Homo sapiens: one gene and its partner. The protein of the gene in region 1 purifies or fractionates together with the protein of each later gene. This does not show direct contact. Each region holds a gene or a part of one and is shown in the gene's direction. Other genes may lie near its edges.

The links.
Region 2: the proteins of HIVEP3 (region 1) and WWP1 purify together in Homo sapiens (affinity purification with western blotting, with the first as the bait; one study listed by BioGRID). This does not show direct contact.

Annotation. Positions count from the first base shown.
Region 1 is NC_000001.11:41,912,217-41,916,039, reverse strand, and holds part of HIVEP3 (transcription factor HIVEP3), read left to right. Parts: intron 1-3,823.
Region 2 is NC_000008.11:86,348,795-86,352,617, forward strand, and holds part of WWP1 (NEDD4-like E3 ubiquitin-protein ligase WWP1), read left to right. Parts: intron 1-3,823. UniProt on the Homo sapiens protein: E3 ubiquitin-protein ligase which accepts ubiquitin from an E2 ubiquitin-conjugating enzyme in the form of a thioester and then directly transfers the ubiquitin to targeted substrates.

The DNA of each region.
Region 1 (3,823 bases):
TTTAACTTGTCTCTCACTCCCTACTCTGTGAATTCCCTAATGTCTTTAAGGCTCTTTTTTGCCCTCCATCCTGCCCATCAAGGAGTCCCTGACATGCTGTTCTCCATCCTGTTTCCTGTGGAGTCAAAGTGTATTTACAAATCTGCAGATGCACTAGGCGGGCAGGGCTGGAAAACACTGGCTGTATCAACAGGCAGCACTAGCATTCTGGGTCAGACTTGGCCAAAGCCCGTGACCAATTTTCTTCCTTATCTGTAAAGTAGGTGTAACCATCATAACCTTACCAAGACCACTGAACTATCTTGAGAAGAAAAATGAGATACGTTTAGTAACATGCTATGTAGTTGATAGGTATTAGGATAATACCACAACAATCTGGAACTCACATTTACATAATTTCACTTATCCAGTTGGGACCTAGATGGCAAATCAAGAGAAAGGTCATAAGTCCATGAGCTACAGTTTATGAATTTTGATCATTGGAGGAAATTTTATACCCTCTTTCAGGCCTCTGCATTTACTTCAAGTTTTAAGAGGCTTGGTTATTAGTTTGTCAAATGCACCTAGCAAATTGGAAGCAACTGATACTGTACTGTGCAAGGATTATTAAAGCTCTTTTATCAAGTATCAGTAAGAAGTAAGAGTAAAAAACAGAAAAACTAAAAAAAAATTTAAAAGGCACAAGAATTCAAGGCATGGAATTCTAAAGCTGATATGAGCATTTAATGTAAGCAATTCAGTGAAATTTTATGTATTTTGATGGATCTTTGGTACTCTGTTTTATAACATAGTAACTGATGCTCACAATGACCCACATGTATCCATAGAAGTTAAAATTATATTTTGTTCATCCAATTTAAAAAGACAGAGTTCTGAAGTATCCCCAAAAGATTTTTTTTTTTTGCATGATTCTTAGAGAAAAAACTGCAACTATCCATGATAATGGCACCTGTGAGGTTTCTGGATAGCCGGTGGCTTACTGGTCAAAATTATATTACAACTATAAAGCCCTGCTGTTGAAATTGAGAACTTTATGATCTTTTGTCAAAATTTATCAGGGAACTACTATGCTACTGTTATTATTAGTGGTTATGTTCTAACATTTAATACTAAAGAAAATATTCATGAACCTCAACCTGTCTTGTTATGATCAGGAAACACACTTAGAGTTGTTCCAACTTGATGACTTTAATTCTGGAGTTGGAAGAGACCTGGTGATGGAAAAGATGGAGCAGGAGAGGTAGACCCTACTGCTATCTGTTTCTTACATCTGTGTAGCAAATGTAGACTTACCACTACCCGGATGTTGTTCAAGCTGTCATGGCCACACCCTTATGGTAAGCAATGGTGTTTTTTCAGTTCAGACATCGTGCTGAAAACTGGAAGGTGGCTGAGATACACGAGCAGTGCCAAACTTGGCCTGACCCTCTGACAATGTGTTCAGTTAAAATTTGCTCCAAAACAAAGGCAAGAGGAAAAACAAAAGTAGAGGAAAATAAATGTAGACCCTTTTAAAATAGTATTTTAAAAATTCAATACATATGTGGAAAACGTGAGGACCTAACTAAAAGTCATGGAAGAGTATTTCTCAGTTTCTAGATGTACATACATTCATTGTTTTGGTAACTTACTTGAAAAAATTCTTTAACTAAAAGAAACTGTCAGTAACAGGTTATTGAATATAATCACAAATACTCAGAACTCTCCAAAGGTTCCCTGTATCTAATTGTAATATGATGGAGAAAAGGTATTCCCTGAAGTCCCAGAGGGCTTGGAAGGCAGAGGAGGTGAGGCATGGTGGTGGGAAGTGACTGAACCACACTATCCAGAGGACTGCCCTGTTGGGAGGTTTCACAGTTGGAAATATGTGCTTGGGAGGCAGGACAACAATGGAAGTGGTGAGTACATGACTGATGGGTCTCCCCTCCTCATTACTAAGTGTTTTTGAAATGCCAGGTGCAGCTGGAATTCTTGTGGATAAAGGGGGAAGCTTTATATCTAAATATGAAGTAGGGGTGATCTGAAAATGCCTTTCAGATTTGGGGAGCAAAGCCAGGGAGAAGTATAGGGAAGCTAGTCTCAGAAATCTTGAGATCTCTGAGCATCGGTGGACCCTTGAATTGGGGTTTAGGATCAACTTTTTAAACATGTGTTATGTATGAATAACTGAGATCCAAAGAAAAGCTAATAAACAAATAGTAGAAAGATATGGAAAAAATAAAAGCAGTGTTATAAACACACGATATGCTCCTCCGAATCTCAGTCACCAATTTTAGTCTATTGAGTCTTTCATTGGACTTCCAGGCTTAGCATTAGATGTTGAAACTATCTTAAGATCAGAGGAGCTGGATACAGTGGCTCATGCCTGTAATGCCAGCTGCTCAGGAGGCTGACACAGGAGGATCACTTGAGCCCAGGAGTTTGAGATCAGCCTGGGCGACATAGCAAGACCCTGTCTTAAAAAAAATAAAAATAAAATTATGGACATGGTGGCTCACACCTGTAATTCTAACTACTCAGGAGACAGAGGCGGGAGGATCTCTTGAGTCCAGGAGTTTGAGCCTGCCATGGGCTATGATCACATCACTGTACTCCAGCCTGGACAATAGAGCAAATATGTCTCTTAAAAACAAAAAGATCAGAGATGCCCTGATAAACATGAATTGATTGGATTTAAATAGAAGAAGAATTTTGAAATCCTCCTCCATCAAAATTCTACACAGTAGACGCTTGACATTTTCAGTGGATACATCTCAAGCCCTTGGCAAATCCCCAAGTTTGCAAATGCAGAAATATTTGCATAGGCTCTTGACTTCCTCCTGAATCAGGTTCCATTCCAGAGTGAAGAGGTTCCTATGACTATTCACAGGCTACCAATTATTTGCCTTTTCAATTTGCACTCAAGGAAATTAAGTTTCTTTCACCTCCAGAGAGTTTCTGTTTCCCTGGTGGCATCTTGGGATGGGGTTACTGGGTCTTTGAGAAGACTCCCTCTCTAGCTAAGTGACTTGTTCTTTGCTGTGGCTTTGCAACATACAGTTCACATTTGTGCTCCAGAGAAAAGACAAATTGCCATGTGGTGTGGCTATTAGGGGTTGTTCACAAATAACTGAAAAAGTGTTGAATCTACAAGCATCTGCTGGGTTTGCTAAAAAATTGCACATGTGTGCAGCCCCTCAAACTCCCCCCAATTCCCTGGCCCTCAGTATACACTTAATACAGTGTTAGAAACTTCCCCTGACTGTCAGCAAATCTTGATGAGGGGAATTGGGCATAGCACAGCTGAAGCGTCTGGTAAAGAACTTAAAATGAGAGCATCACCATTGAAATCTTAGCAAGAGAAGCAGAATGTAGTCATTTGCTCCATGCCCTCATTTTGAAGATTTCAAAGTTTGAGAAAAAAACCCACTATGATTATGATTGTATCAAATAAATGAGCCAGAGCATAATGTGCCCTGGAGGTTGGGCCTTGCTGTACCTCACTGGAAAGATTCTCACAAGAATGTTTTGGAGTGGTCTGGGGAGAAGCTCTTAGAATTTTAAGTGGGTTTAAGAGCACACCAATTACAATTGAGGAGAGCATCTTTGCCCAGCAACTAGAAAAGATATGGCAGGAACTGCAGCAATTTGATATGAGAGTTTCTTATTAAATTTGTGTTGTGACCATCTTTTGAAATAACTTTAATGAAATAGCCCCTAGATGCAAACGAATGCTTACAAACTGTGTAGAAAGGTCTAAAGAATAACATTATGACTAACACTTATGTACTCACCAGTCAATTTGAGAAAAAGAATGTTACTTGAACCTTTGACATCCCCTGTG
Region 2 (3,823 bases), on another chromosome or scaffold:
TTGTTTCAGTTATGTACTGCTGTGTAGCAAACAGCCCTAAACCAAGTGACTTAAAACAACCATTTTCTTTGTTACAGTTTTGCTTTCCTGGGTTGGGCTCAGTTGGGCAGGTTTTGCTGGTGATCACTCTAATGGCTGCTTTTCTCTCCAAGTAGCCTTTCCAGCAGAGTTGCTGGCCTTACCTGGTAGCTGATGGCTTAGGGCTCACAAGAGTACAAAACAGAAGCAACCAGATCTTTTTTTTTGAGAGGGAGTCTCACTCTGTCACCCAGGCTGGAGTGCAGTGGCTCAGTCTTGGCTCACTGCAACCTCCACCTCCCAGGTTCAAGCAATTCTCCTGCCTCAGCTTCCCGAGTAGCTGGGATTACAGGCGTGCACCACCATGCCCAGCTAATTTTTGTATTAGTAGAGATGGGGTTTCACCATGTTGGACAGGCTAGTCTGGAACTCCTGAGCTCAGGTGATCTGTCCGCCTCGGCCTCCCAGAGTGCTGGGATTACAGGCGTGAGCCACCGTGCCTGGTCTGCAACCAGATCTTCTTAAGGTTTAGACTTGTAAGGGATACAGTATCATTTCTGCCTTATTATACTGGTTAAAGCAAGTCACAAATCTAGCCCAGGTTCAAGGGTACAAATGTGTGAATCCATTTGGGGCCACCCATGTAACAGATTACCATAAATTTTATTTAAGTATAACATCAGCTTTACTATACCAAAACAGGACTTACGGAAAACTGTTTTGGAAGCTGAAGCTTAGGCAGCTTACTACTTTCCGCAAATCTGGATTTTGAGTCTGAGCATGCCACAGGGAAAGCTGAGTCTAAAAAGTGCAAATGACAGCACATCTGGCTTACTACGCAAATGGGAATACCTAGCACTCTCCTTGGTTAGAAAAGAGGAGAACATTTGTGGCCTCTGAGGTTTTTCCTAGTGTGCCACCATAATAGGGTAGGATTGACTTGCCTTCTGCTTGAGGGCAGTGGGATCTAACAAAGTACAGGACCCAAGAGTCCATGCTGCTTGGAAGTAGTGATTTACCCGATCTCGTGAATTGGAACAGACAGCATCCCATGCAGAAAATGGGCCACAGATGGGCAGAGATCGATTCCCTCTGCCCTTGTGATTGGATTTGAGACCTAGGGGAGAAGGGTTTCTTGACTATCACTCTGGCCTTGACCAGAGTGAGCAACCTGTCCCCCACGCGCTCCAAGCCCCAATGGCATTTTCTGTTTGCAGTGTCTTGAAAAAGCTTGGGATAAGCTACTCTTCCTTGGAGAGGTGTCATTATAGTGGAGAGAATTCTCTTTCCTTCTAGAGACTGGAATGGTAATCCTCTCTTATGGAAATACAATGAATAAGGTGCTGCTTCTCCTTTCCAAGAACAGGTAGATTCATTGATTGCTATCTGGGTTTTTCTCGCATTATCACTTAACCTTATCCACTATCGCTTTATTTTAGTCTTAGCAGTATTTTTTGTTTGTTTGTTTTTAGTTCAAGTTGGCTGCTAAGTAATGCCATGGTTAAAGGTGAAATGAAGAAAATGAGTGTTTAGTTTTTATTACATTATAGCTTCTGAGTGGAGTAGTGAATGCATTTCATTTTAAGAATTTAGGTTATTAGTGCATAGCTGCGAAGCATTTTTGAAGCATTTCATGTACACTAAAAAACGGGCCCCTGCATCCTAATGCAAATCTCTTTGCAAATTTCTGAAAATAGTACATTGGCTGTTGCGGGGAGGAGTTTGGTAATTGGATGTACTGAGAAACATGATTTATAGAAATAGGAAAGGCCAGGGCACAAAGAAGGGCACGGATAGAGTTACATGAAGGTGCTTCTTGATGGCTGTCCTCCCTACCCTAAATTATTTGGGTAGTTAAAAAATATCCTAGCATTAACAGAATGTAGGTATGATAGCCTTTTAGGAAACAAGGAAAACAAGTTCTTTTGATAGCTGTTCAGTATACTCATAAATCTGATTGACTGGGCTGGGTGGAAGCTGACTGTTGAGTCCTGACTTGAAATTAGGATACTGTGGTTACACATTAGCCCCAACTTGCCAAGATGTCCTACTTTTTGTCTGTGTTTAGTTAGACTGGGGAGGAGAATTAGTTAAATGAACCTGTTTTGTATAAAGTAGGATATTCTTTACCTTAGAAGTAAACAAACTAGATTGTTCTTCTCTTTTTAAGTTTTTAACGGTAGAGGCACTTTTGGCATACAGGTTAAGAGTCACAGTTTAAAGTCAGGCAGACCTGACTTCTGGTAGTATTGCTTAATGGCAGGATTGCCTCAGTTTCTTCTTTTGTAAAATGTAAAGAATACCATCCTTAATGGATTTTTGTAAGGATTAATTGAAATAATGTTTATAAAGCAGAAAGCATGGTGGCTAGAACGTAAGCCCTTAAATCATGTTTATTGCTCGTAATTCAGTATTATGAAGTTGAAAATTCAAACAAGTATTCACTTTGCTGTGAGCTACTCATTTCTCAAAGACAGTTCTAGCTTCGTTTTGGCATGGGCAGAGCTCCTTATCAAATTTCCACCCCCAGCTTTTTTTTGAGACAGGGTCTCCGACAGCTCTGTCTCCCAGGCTAGAGAGCAATAGTGTGATCATGGTTCATAGCAGGCTTGACCTCGGGGGCTCAAGCAATCCTCCCACCTCAGCCCCACAAGTAGCTGGGACTACAGTTACGCACTAACATGCTCAGCTAGTTTTTTTTTTTTTTTAGTAGAGATGTTGCCCAGGCTGGTCTTGAATTCCTGGGCTCAAGTGATCCCCCCTACCTCGACCTCCCATAGTGCTGGGATTTACAGGCATGAGCCACCAGGCCTGGCCAAATAAACAAAAAAAAAGTTGCTAAAAGGGTAAGCACGAAATCTGGGATACTGACTTAACATGGCTGGCAATATATCAGCTAGTGATGGTTTTGCTGTGCAGCCTGGGAACAAGAAATCATTAACACCATCATTAGATGAAATATTGTATTGACCAGTGTTTGTCAAAGCGCAATCCTTATATAACAGTCGTCTGGGATGCTTATTAAACATGTTGATTCTTGAGTATCCTTTGAGATCTCTGATATGGTCCTTGAGAGTGGAGCTTAGGGATCTTCATTTTTTGCAAATATCTCAAGAGATTTTATGCACATTAGTTTGAGAACTGTTGGTAGAAACTGAATTGGTTATTTGGGGTCCTAGTGTGCTCTGTCAGAGTTCATTTTTCTAGCTAGCTAGCTAAAATATTCCTTTTTTTTTTTTTTTTTTGAGAAAAGGTCTTGTTCTGTCACCCAAGGCTAGAGTGCAGTGGCAAGATCATGGCTCACTGCAACCTTAACCAACCTCCTGGGCTCAAACGATCCTCCCACCTTAGCCTCCCTAGTAGTTGGGAGTACAGGTGTGTGCCGCGACACCTAGCTAATTTTTTATTTTTATTTATTTATTTATTTATTTTAAGACAGAGTCTTACTGTCACCCAGGTTGGAGTGCAGTGGCGCTATCTCGGCTCACTGCAACCTCTCCCTCCCAGTTTCAAATGATTCTTGTGCCTCATCCTACCGAGTAGCTGGGATTACAGGTGCATGCCACCAGGCCCAGCCAATTTTTGTATTTTTAGTAGAGACGGGATTTTACCATGTTGGCCAGGCTGGTCTCGAACTCCTGGCCTCAAGTGATTCACCCGTCTTGGCCTCCCAAAGTTCTGGGATGGATTATAGCCATGAGCCACCGTGCCCTGCCTAATTTTTTATTTTTCTTAGAGATGGGGGTCTTACCTTATTTCCCAGGCTGGTCTTGAACTCCTGGACTCAAGTGATCCTCTCACCTTG